Linked DNA regions of Homo sapiens: region 2 is linked to region 1. The links come from fine-mapping of genetic effects on gene expression. A gene starts in region 1. The other region holds a variant in brackets. All regions are shown on one strand. Distances are from middle to middle. Region 1 holds the start of TEP1 (telomerase associated protein 1). Region 2 has its middle 17 kb from the start of RNASE10.

Region 1 (5,379 bases):
GTAGCTGGGATTACAAGTGCCTGCCACCACACCCAGCTAATTTTTGTATTTGTAGTAGAGACAGGGTTTCACCATGTTCATCAGGATGGTCTCAATCTCCCGACCTCATGATCCACCCACCTCAGCCTCCCAAAGTGCTAGGATTACAGGCGTGAGCCACCGCACCCAGCCTAATTGTTTCTCTTTACTGAAATACAACTCCTTAAGGTAAGGGCTCCTTTGTCTTGCTCCCCTCTGCATCTTCAGCATCATACACAAAACCCGACTTCCGGTCACCTCCCAGCATCATCTCTCACTAACACCCCGATCTAACCCTCAGCACTCTAAGCTTCAATCATACAAATTTTATTTAGCTTATTAATTGCCAAGGTATCTCTTGACTACGGGCCTGTGCACAGGCAGATCCCTGGAACACTCTTTCTTCTACCAATACCACCCCTCCTTTACAAGGCCAAATGCTACTTTCCTCTCACTCTACAGACTTCAGTTTCATCAACTCCTCCAAAAAGCCTGTGCTGACACCAAGCCCCAGTCTGATTTAGGTGGCCTTCTCCTTGTTTTCACAACACCCATATGTCCCCTATCATAGAGCACATCACCTGTTTGTCTTTCTTCCCAATAGACCATTAAGTTCCTGAGGAGAGAGACCCTTTTAGCCTTGTTCCCACAATTGCTGGTCAGCGGGATTCAGAGGCTTTTGAGAATCTGGTAAAAGCTATGGAGCTTTTTCACAGAAAAAAAAAAAGTATATACTGTTTTGTGCTCAATTTTCAGAGTGTCTATGAAGCCCATTTATGGACCTCCCAGGATCTCCATAAACTGAAAATTAGAAACCTCTGCCTAACAGAATGCTTGAATTATACCATCAGGAACCTATTTTCTGGCTGGGTGTGGTGGCTCACACCTGTAATCCTAGCATTTTGGGAGGCTGAGGTGGGAGAATCACTTGAGGTCAGGAGTTCAAGACCAGCCTGGGCAACATAGTGAGACCTCTATTTAAAAAAAAAAAGGAATGTATTTTCTTACTTATTTGGACAAAGGCTAATCTCTCATTCATATGTAAATATTTTGGGAATAATATTGTTAAGTCAACCACCTAAACTTAGTGTGAAAAAGCTTAGGGACAAAAGTACAGAACACTTCCAAGAAGACCTGAATGACTAACAATCCAGGGCCAAAAAGGACAACAATATCTCACTGGACGTCAGTGTGACAAACACGTAAAAAATGATGGCTTCTGTGCCCAATACACTTTGCTCATGTCGTTGCCCTATATAAGCCCCCAAGGAAAGGAGTGGGGAAACTCAGAATTGACTCAGATTTTTTTTAAAAGAGATCTCAAGCCAAAAATAAACAGAAAAATAAGGACAGTTTATTTGAGCAACATAGTGAGACTGTCCTATCCTTAAAAGGACAGTCTCACTATTTTGCTCATTTTATTGTTTTGCACCCTGGAGTTTTTGAAAGGAGATTCGGCTGAACCACAAATGGAAAGTTAAAGTTCCGTCCCCACTTCCATCTCTAGTTCCCTTCTCTGGAAGTAAACATTGCTCACAGTTTTATACTAACAGTTTCACAGTTTCTATGCATATGCAAATACATGCCTTCACCATCACCACTGCTTTTGCTTTTGCTTTACACAAACAGGATCATAAGTTAGATGCTATTCTGCACTTAGTATATCTCAGAGACCTTGCCCTGTTAACACATTAATACCCACCTCACTCTTTCCTTTTTTTTTTTTTTTTTTTTTTGAGGCGGAGTCTGGCTCTGTTGTTCAGCTCACTGCAATCTCTGCCTGCCGAGTTCAAGCGATTCTCCTGCCTTAGCCTTCCGAGTAACTGGGATTACAGGCGCCCACCACCATGCCCGGCTAATTTTTTTGTATTTTCAGTAGAGAGGGTTTTCACCATGTTGGTCAGGCTGGTCTCAAACTCCTGACCTCAGGTGATCCCCAACCTCCGCCTCCCAAAGTGCTGGGATTACAGGCGTGAACCACCGCGCCCGGCCTCCACCTCACTCTTCAAGTGGCTGTATGGTAGTCTAGCACATTTAAGCACAGTCTGGGTTTCTATTATCACAAACGGTTCTCATACTACCATTTGTTGGTGACAGCCACTGTCCCCTTTCGATGGGCACACAGGGCAAGGAAGTAAGAGGGGATGATTCTTACGTGGTCTCTCTTCCTGTCCCTCCCTCTCCTTCAGCCTTCTCCTCCTCCTTTCTCACCTCCCCTTTCACGCAGTATACACTCCCTCCCCTTCCCGGAGCCGCCGGGAGGAGCAGGGTGGATGCACCCCTAGCTGAGTCTCGGGTGGTTCCTAACCGGCCCCGCCAGGCACTTCCCACCCAGCTCTCAGCCTCAGAGCCCAGCGCCCTAGACCCAGGGCCAGGGCAAGTTCTGCCTGCGCTCGGACCCTACCTTAGACTGGGGCTGGAAACCCTGGGTGCCTGACCTGGGGCGTCCGATTCCCGCAGCAGGAAGCAGAAACTTCGCTCTGGATTCTGCCGGTGGGAAGGGTGGCAGCCGGGGGAGGAGCCGGATGCGGATCTGAGAAGAGACGGTGCGGGCGGAGACTCTCGGGCCCGGGCGGGGCGCAGCAGCTGCTGGAAGGGCAGCGAGCCGAGGGCCGGGCAAGACGACATGCCAGGGCTGCGACGCGAATGCCCAGGACCCCTGCCGCCTTTTCTGGGGCCCGAGTTTAGTTTGTTATTGTTTCTATTTTTTTTCCCTTTCTGGTCCTATTTTCTCCTGTCCCTAGGGCTTCCCCCTCTACCAAATTCGTCTCCTCTGGCTAATTTTCGTCTTTTTTTCTCCCATTAACTCTTCAAACACCGTTTCCTGGAAAAGATTTTAGCATGCTCGCTGCCTAGCTGTACACCTCTCCTTCCTAATATCAAAGACGGTCAGACTCAATTCATCCTAAAGTTCCTTTGAGGAACTCCTTAAAAGGAGACGGAAAGCGGAAAGCAACCGCCTGTAACCAAGTGTAGACATCAGTCAATCAAAGTTCGCTGAACTGAGAGCAAGTGCCTCCCCTCCTGTTGATCAGAAGAGAGATCCGTGGATCACACAGAATCTATCTGGAGCCATCCTGAATGATTAATGCTGAACCCTTTCCAGGAAGATGGAACCAGGCTTAGGAAAGAGACAAGTGACCCTTAGGTTAATAATCCTAGCTTCATAAAGAGAGGACCAAACATAGTAGCAGGAGAAATATGCTTTCTGCCTTTATATAAAGCAGATTAGCTGTCTTCTGGAAAATATCATTGCTTTCCTTAGAGAGGTACCCTTGAGTCTCAGGTAACAGCTGAGCTTCCGCTCAGAATTGAGGGCATTCTGTCCTCTATTAACTGAGCCAGTACCCCTTTCCTTCCTTAGAAACCTCTATTGCCACCAGTCCCAACACTCCCTGCAATGGTCTTTATGTTTGTGTCTCCCCAAAATTTATATATTGAAACCCTAATCCCAATGCGATGGTATTTAGGGTGGGATCTCTGGGAGGTCATTAGGTCATGGAGTTTAGAATACTCATAAATGGGATTGGTGGCCTCATAAGGAGAGACGGAAGAGCTAGCTAGCTCTTTTTCCACGATATGAGGATACAAGAAAACAGCCATCTGCAATCCCAAGGAAGACCCTCATCTTCAGAGGCAGACCATGCTGGCAATCTGATCTTGGACTTCCATTCTCTAGAACTGTGAGAAATAATATTTGTTGTTTAAGCCACCCGGTCTACGGTAATTTGTTATAGCAACCTGAACTAAAACATTTCCTTTTTATAACAAATATTTTAAAGCTCTTTTTATTTTTCTGAAACATAATTCGTAAAGAATGTAACTTACCCCCACGCACAATTTTAAACCAAAATTTAAAGACAAAAAGTAGAGACAGGGTTTTGCTATGTTGCCCAGGCTCTCTACCTCCAGGGCTCAAATAGTCCTCCTACCTTGGCCTCCCAAAGTGCTTGGATTACAGGCATAAGCCACCATGCCTGGCCAAAAAATTAGTAAAATCTCTTAAAGAGATATAAAGGAGTCTACGGCCATACCACCCCGAACGCGCCCGATCTCCTCTGATCTTGGAAGCTGAGCAGGGTTGGGCTTGGTTAGTACTTGGATGGGAGATAAAAGGAATACTAGAAAGAATATGACTTATAATTAAATACTATATGTTTAGATATGTAAATGTTTGTGTATAACATTCAAGAAGACACAATGTGGTACTCAGATATATGCATCTGTATATAAAATCACCTGGAATGTAACAGCTACAAATGCAGAATGATACAGGCATTATAATGGCGATTCAAATACCATGAACAGAATTACTGATGTGGTATGATTTTCCAGAATACTAAATAGCTTTTGGCAGATTTTCAAACAAAACAAGGTATGATCATCCCATGATTTTCATGGTAGTTGCATCCCTGGAAAGTTCAGTGTGTATTAAAACTACGCATAAAATGCCTTGTGTTTATATTTAAAATTAAATTATGGTCAGGCACGGTGGCTCACGCCTGTAATCCCAGCACTTTGGGAGGCCAAGGTGGGCAGATTACCTGAGGTCAGGAGTTTGAGACCAGCCTGGCCAACATGGTGAAACCTTGTCTCCACCAAAAATACAAAAATTAGCCGGGCATGGTGGTGGCCGCCTGTAATCCCAGCTACTTGGGAGACTGAGGCAGGAGAATGGCTTGAACCCAGGAGGTGGAGGTTGCAGGGAGCCGAGACCACACCACTGCACTCCAGCCTGGGTGACAAGAGCAAAACTCCGACTCAAAAAAAAAATAAAAAAATTAAGTTAGATCCTAATTAAAACAAGTTTTCAGCTACATGAATGACTGGCAAGTTATTCAAAGTTAAAGATGCGGAAATGTCACTCATTGTGTGGTAGTGTCCTAAACAGTTCCTGAATGTTGAGCTATCCTGGGCCCTACCCATTTAAATGTGTAAAATCATCCTAATTATTGTGAAAGCCAAAAACACCCCCTAGAGGGCAGTACCACTCACATCGAAAACCTTCATTAGTGGTCTGTTTAGAGGAGAAAGAGAGGAGTTTGGTGAGGGAACACAAGAGCTAGGAAACCTGAAAGAAAGGGTTACGTGAGGTGACTACAGTGGGAGCATATTGAGGAGAAGGAAGTGAGGGGAGGGATTGAAGGAGTCCACACAGGGCCTTTCTTCTGAAGGCCAGCTTTATAAGGCCTCTTCCCCATAGAATATGCCTTAGATAATAATCCCAACCTCAAGACCTCGTAGTCTGTGACTCTCTGTGGGAAACACCTGCCCCACCAGTGAAAGAACAGCATATGCAAGCCCTTCCATCATATTCCCATAAATATCAGACCTGAGAAGACTGGCAATACAGGAGGGAAG
Region 2 (5,379 bases), 75 kb after region 1:
AATATGGCAATGGCCAAGTAAAAAACCCATCCGCATAATAAAAGATTAGGGTGGGGCAGCCAGCTTCTTTGAGTGCTATGCAAATGGCATACCTGGTCCAACCAATCTTTCGAGCCCTGTGTAAATCAGACACCGCCTCCTCAAGCTTATCTATAAAACTTCCTGCATTTCACTGTGGAAGTGGCAATCCATTTTCCCCAGGACCCCTCTCTGCACAGAGAGCTCTTCTCTTTCTTTCGCCTATTAAACCTCCGCTTTTAACCTTACTTCTTGTGTGTCCACATCCTTGATTTCCTTGGCATGAGGCAGCAAACCTCAGGTATTACCTTAGATGAATGATGCTGCTTCAGTAAGAAGAGGTTGGATTCTGGAGATATTTGAAGGTAGAGCAGATAGGACTTACCTATATTTACATAGATATAAGGAAATATATATATATAGAGAGAGATATATATATAGAAATATATATATTTCTATATATCTACATATAGAAAAAAATATATATTTCTATATATCTATATATATATTTCTATATATCTATATATAAAAAATATATATTTCTATATATCTATATATATAGAATAAGACTTACCTTATTTCTATAGATATATAGAAAATAAAATATGAGTAAAAAATAGGAATTTAGAAAGGTTCCTAAGTTTTCAGCTTGACCTGCTGGGTGAATGGAGTTGCCATCTACCAAGACACCGCTAACAGAGGAGCAGTTTTGGCATGGTAATCAAAAGTTTCTTTTAAGGCTGTCACGTTTGAAAAGCTAGACCTCCAGATGGACATGTGGATTACACAGTTGGGTATATGAGTTTGGAGTCCAAGGGAAGAGGTTTAAGCTAGATAAATACATTTGGAAGTCATTAGCACATAGGTGGTGTTTAAACCAAATTATCTGGACGATATCACTTGGGGACAGAAGTCAGGAGAAGGAGAAGGATCTAGCAAATGTGTTTGAGGAGACATTAATGAGGTAGAAGGAAAACCAAGAAGTAGGATGCCTTGGAGGGCAAGTGAAGAAAGCGTTTTAACACAAGAGACTGATCGAGGTCACTGCTCACCTTGACGAGCAGTCTCAGCGGGGTAACAAAGATGATATCTTTATTAGAGCGGACACCAGAAAGAATGAGAGGTGAGGAAATAGAGGCAGCAAGTGCAAACCATGAAATTTTGCTATAAAGGGAAGTGGTAGCTGGGGGAAAGGATGTGGGTTCAGGAGAAGGTTTTTTCCTTTTTTTTTAAATGATGGGAGGCATTTTGAACTGGAAAGAAGCCAACTGGGACTTGGGTGTGATCTGAAGAAGAGAAGATGGCCTGTACCATAGTCTGAGAGTTAAATGGCACCTTTATTGATTATTGATATAATACCCTATGGCTTGCTTATAGTACAGTTACACCTGTGTTGTGTGATAGGGAGCCTTGCCAGTGGAAGCAAATTGGTCTAAGATAGAAGCTTGGTTTTGACTTGATAGCTGCCCATAAGAGGGCAGCAGAGCAGAGCTAGGAAATTAAAAACAACAACAACAATAATAACAACAACAAAGAAAAACTCTGCAAGGTGATCCCTGCAGGGTAAAGACTTTTTAGCAAACTCTTTAAAGATATTAAAGAAAGTTCAGCCCTTCCTCCCCAGAGCCTCAGTGCTAGATTCTTGCTTAGAGACCCCAAAGGCTCCAGACTTGGGAATACAACTGGTAACATGGCAGACTATGAGCCCTGCAGGGGAGGGAGCAACTGTAAAGCTGATTGAGTGTAAAAGAATGGCTAGTACAGAAGGAAGATGTAGCTGTTATATCGAAGCATTAAAAACAAACAAACAACAAACTAGGCCAGGTGGGGGCCGGGCACAGTGGCTCACGCCTGTAATCCCAGCACTTTGGGAGGCTGAGGTGGGAGGATCACTTGAGGCCAGGAGTTTGAGACCGACCTGAGCAACATAGCAAGACCCTGTTTCTAAAAAAAAAAAAAAAAAAAAAAAAAAATTTACAAGCTGATTGTGATGGCACACACCTGTAGTCTCAGCTACTTGGGAGTCTGAGGCAGGAGGATCACTTGAGCCCAGGAACTCCAGGTTACAGTGAGCAATGATCATGCCACTGCTCTCCAGCTTGGGTGATAAAGCGAGACCCTATCCCTCTCTAAAAAACAAGACAAAACAATAACAATAAAACAAATTAGTCTGGACCATTGTCATTATGAACAGACTATTTTT[T/C]CAAAGTAATCACTGCAATTTACTATCATTCCATAAAAGCCATTGATGCTGAATTCCAATGTGTGTGGCTAAATTTTACCAAAAAAACCTAGTATAGAAGGACTTAATTTATGCTGGGAGGAAGGGAGACACTCATGCTGAGATTGGACCTTTAATGTGAATATTCACAGCAGGTAATATGTACATAGTGCTTTATAGTTTACAAAATATTTTACATTTTTTGGTCCTTTTTAGTTGTGATAATTACTGAGACCCTTGAGCAAGTATCATTGATATTTTTCTCATTTTCATTTTTCTGATTTAAAAAGGCTTAGAGAAAGGTTATCTGACTTTTCCAATACCACACAGCAAAGGAATAGCTAAGCTATTCCTTCAGGCTCAGAACTTTTGTCACCATAGCATTAGATCTACATAAAGAGATGGGGATGGAGAATGTGTAAAAAGGCATCACGTTTAGGTTGAATGAAAAGCCAGAGAGTAGTTAAGTTTGGTGGTAAACAGAAGATGAAAGGAGGTAGTGAAGAACTGTCTTCTATTAATATTATTATTATGATTTTTTTAAGAGATAGAATCTTGATCTGTTACCCAGGCTCTGTGGAATGCACTAGTATGATCATAGCTCTCTGCATCCTTGAACTCCAAGGCTCAAGCAATCCTCTTGCCTCAAACTCCTGAGTAGCTGGGACTACAGGCACATATCACCACACCCAGCTGATTAAAAAAAATTTTTTTTGTAGAAACAAAGTCTTGCTATGTTGCCCAGGCTGGTCTCGAATTCCTGGCCTCAAGTGATCCTAGCACCTCGGCCTCCTAAAGTATTGGGATTACAGGCATGAGCCAACGTACCTGGCCTTATATTATTTTTAAACTTATTTATATAGAAGAATCAAATTTACTCTGTGCAACTTTGGAGAGTTGACTAGGACAGGAGAGCCCACTCAATATTAGAAAAAGAGCTCTACAAAAAAGACATTGTTACGTTACATTCCTGAAATGTTGAAATAGGGGCTAGAGGAATATTTGACAAAGCTGTAGAGAGAAATAGTTGACCTTATGACCTCTAAAATTCTTTTCAAGATATTTTATCTGCAAAAACCTGAATAGCAACAACTATAGTTCCACAACACTCTAGTTCTACAGAAGGAGGGTGGGATGTTACACTGTGCTTTCATGTTTCAATAATTATATATCTATCCATGCATGTCCACTTCTGCTTGATGCCACTGAAGTGGGACCTGAGGAGCTGGGGTGCTAGGGCAGAAAGAGTAAGGTCTGTGCCCGATCCTAGACAAAAGTGGAAGCAATTCACTGCTTCATCCATCACGGAAGGGCAACTCTTTAGCTTAGCAAACTGAGAAATTTTCAGGCTCAACACCAGCAGGAATTCAATTTGCAGCAAGATAGACCTCAGGGGATTGAGGCAATGATTCAGAGAGGATGGGTGGGGTAGGGTTACACAGGAACTTTAGAGAAAGAATCGTTTGTGGGTGGAAGCCTTGGGCAGAGGTGCACTCAGTAGAGAAGAAAGCCATTTGTTCCAGAACAGCAGTTTGAAAGGGGTGTGTTTTGTGTGGGCAATGGTGTATGAGGAAAGGGTTTGTGGGGAAGAAGCGTGTGGGGCTACTAACAGGCACAGAAACACTTGTTGAGAAATGTTGTTCATAGGGGGATTGCTTTGCTGGGGCCCAGGAGCAGGTGGTTTGGTGCAGTGAAAGAGGCCAGAGGGGCAGAAAGAAGGGTCCTAGCTGTGGCCTTAAACACACACATACACACACACACACACACACACACCAAAAAGCAAGGAAGAACCCCTTATCCTCTCAGCCAAGATAAGCAAGCGCTGTTACCAGCTAGGTGTGCTTACTATGGATTTTATACATTTTAGAGAAAATTTCTAATGCCCATTTGTCCTGAACTTTTTACTTGGAATATCGTTAAGTTTACGGAAAAGTAGAAAGGATCATGTAATGAACACTAGTGTACCTCTCACCTAAACCATCAATAGTCAATAATCTGCTACATACATTTGTTTTCTCCTGAGCCATTTGAAAGTAAATTGCTGCAGACAATTTGCCTATCAGTCCATTTTTGAATATATTGGCACGCATCTCTAAGAATAAGGACATTCTCTTACATAATAGCATTGCCATTATGAAGATCTTACCTATGAAGATCCACATTAATTCATAAGATCTGCATGTGTGTTACTTATCAGTACGTCTTATAATGGATTCTGAATGCTTTCCCTTTTCTTATTTCTCTAGCTGTCATCTTTGAAGGTAAAACCTCGACTGCATATCTGGCCAGCCAGGCCAGGCCAAAGTACCTGTATACTGGGTGAGGGGATAAGAAAGACTCTCTCAAAGAGCACAGGAACCTGGAAGCCTGTCAGAGGTCACCTCTCACGGAAGCCCAGGACGCTTCCTTCCTGCTGAGCTAATCTTAACTGCTGACCTCCACGCATTGCTCAGGGCTCCCTCCCTCCCTTCTTCCCTATTTCCTTCCTTCCCTTTCCTCTCCTTTCCTGTCTCTTTCACCAAACCTTAACGGACAACTCTTCTGTGCTAACTTCTGTGCCAGTGTATTAGTCCGTTTTCATGTTGCTGATAAAGACATATCAGAGACTGGGAAGAAAAGGTGGTTTAATTTGACTTACAGTTCCACATGGCTGGGGAGGTCTCACAATCATGGCAGAGGGTGAAAGGCACTTCTTACTTGGAGGAGGCAAGAGGGAATGAGGAAGATGCAAAAGTGGAAACCCCTGATAAAACCATCAGATCTCGTGAGACTTATTCACTACCACGACCAAACCATATCAGCCAGTATCTGCCATCCCAAGTGAACTTAGTCTGTGAACTCAAAATAGTGCTGGCCAGGCATGGTGGCTCACGTCTGTAATCCCAGCGCTTTGGGCGGCCAAGGCGGGGGGATCATGAGGTCAGGAGATCGAGACCATCCTGGCTGACATGGCGAAACCCTGTCTCCACTAAAATACAAAAAAATTAGCAGGGCATGGTGGCACATGCCTGTAGTCCCAGCTACTAAGGAGGTTGAGGCAGAAGAATGGAAGAATGGCTTGAACCCAAGAGGCAGAGGTTGCAGTGAGCCGAGATCGCGCCACTGCCCTCCATCCTGGCAACAGAGTGAGACTCTGTCTC

What was found. PIP is the estimated chance that this variant, and not a neighbour inherited with it, causes the effect.
Region 2: its variant is fine-mapped to the expression of TEP1 in whole blood (TOPMed, PIP 0.97).

Annotation. Positions count from the first base shown.
Region 1 is chr14:20,410,949-20,416,327 of GRCh38, forward strand. TEP1 (telomerase associated protein 1) reads right to left here and starts at 2,553. Exons shown (of 55, transcript NM_007110.5): 1 at 2,457-2,553. It also overlaps the pseudogene RNA5SP382. RefSeq lists enhancers at 1,391-2,307, 1,417-1,586, 2,137-2,206, 2,707-2,756.
Region 2 is chr14:20,486,064-20,491,442 of GRCh38, forward strand. No RefSeq gene overlaps it. Among named protein-coding and RNA genes, the nearest start is that of RNASE10, 17 kb to the right of the region's middle. The variant T/C (reference allele first, on the strand shown) is at 2,222.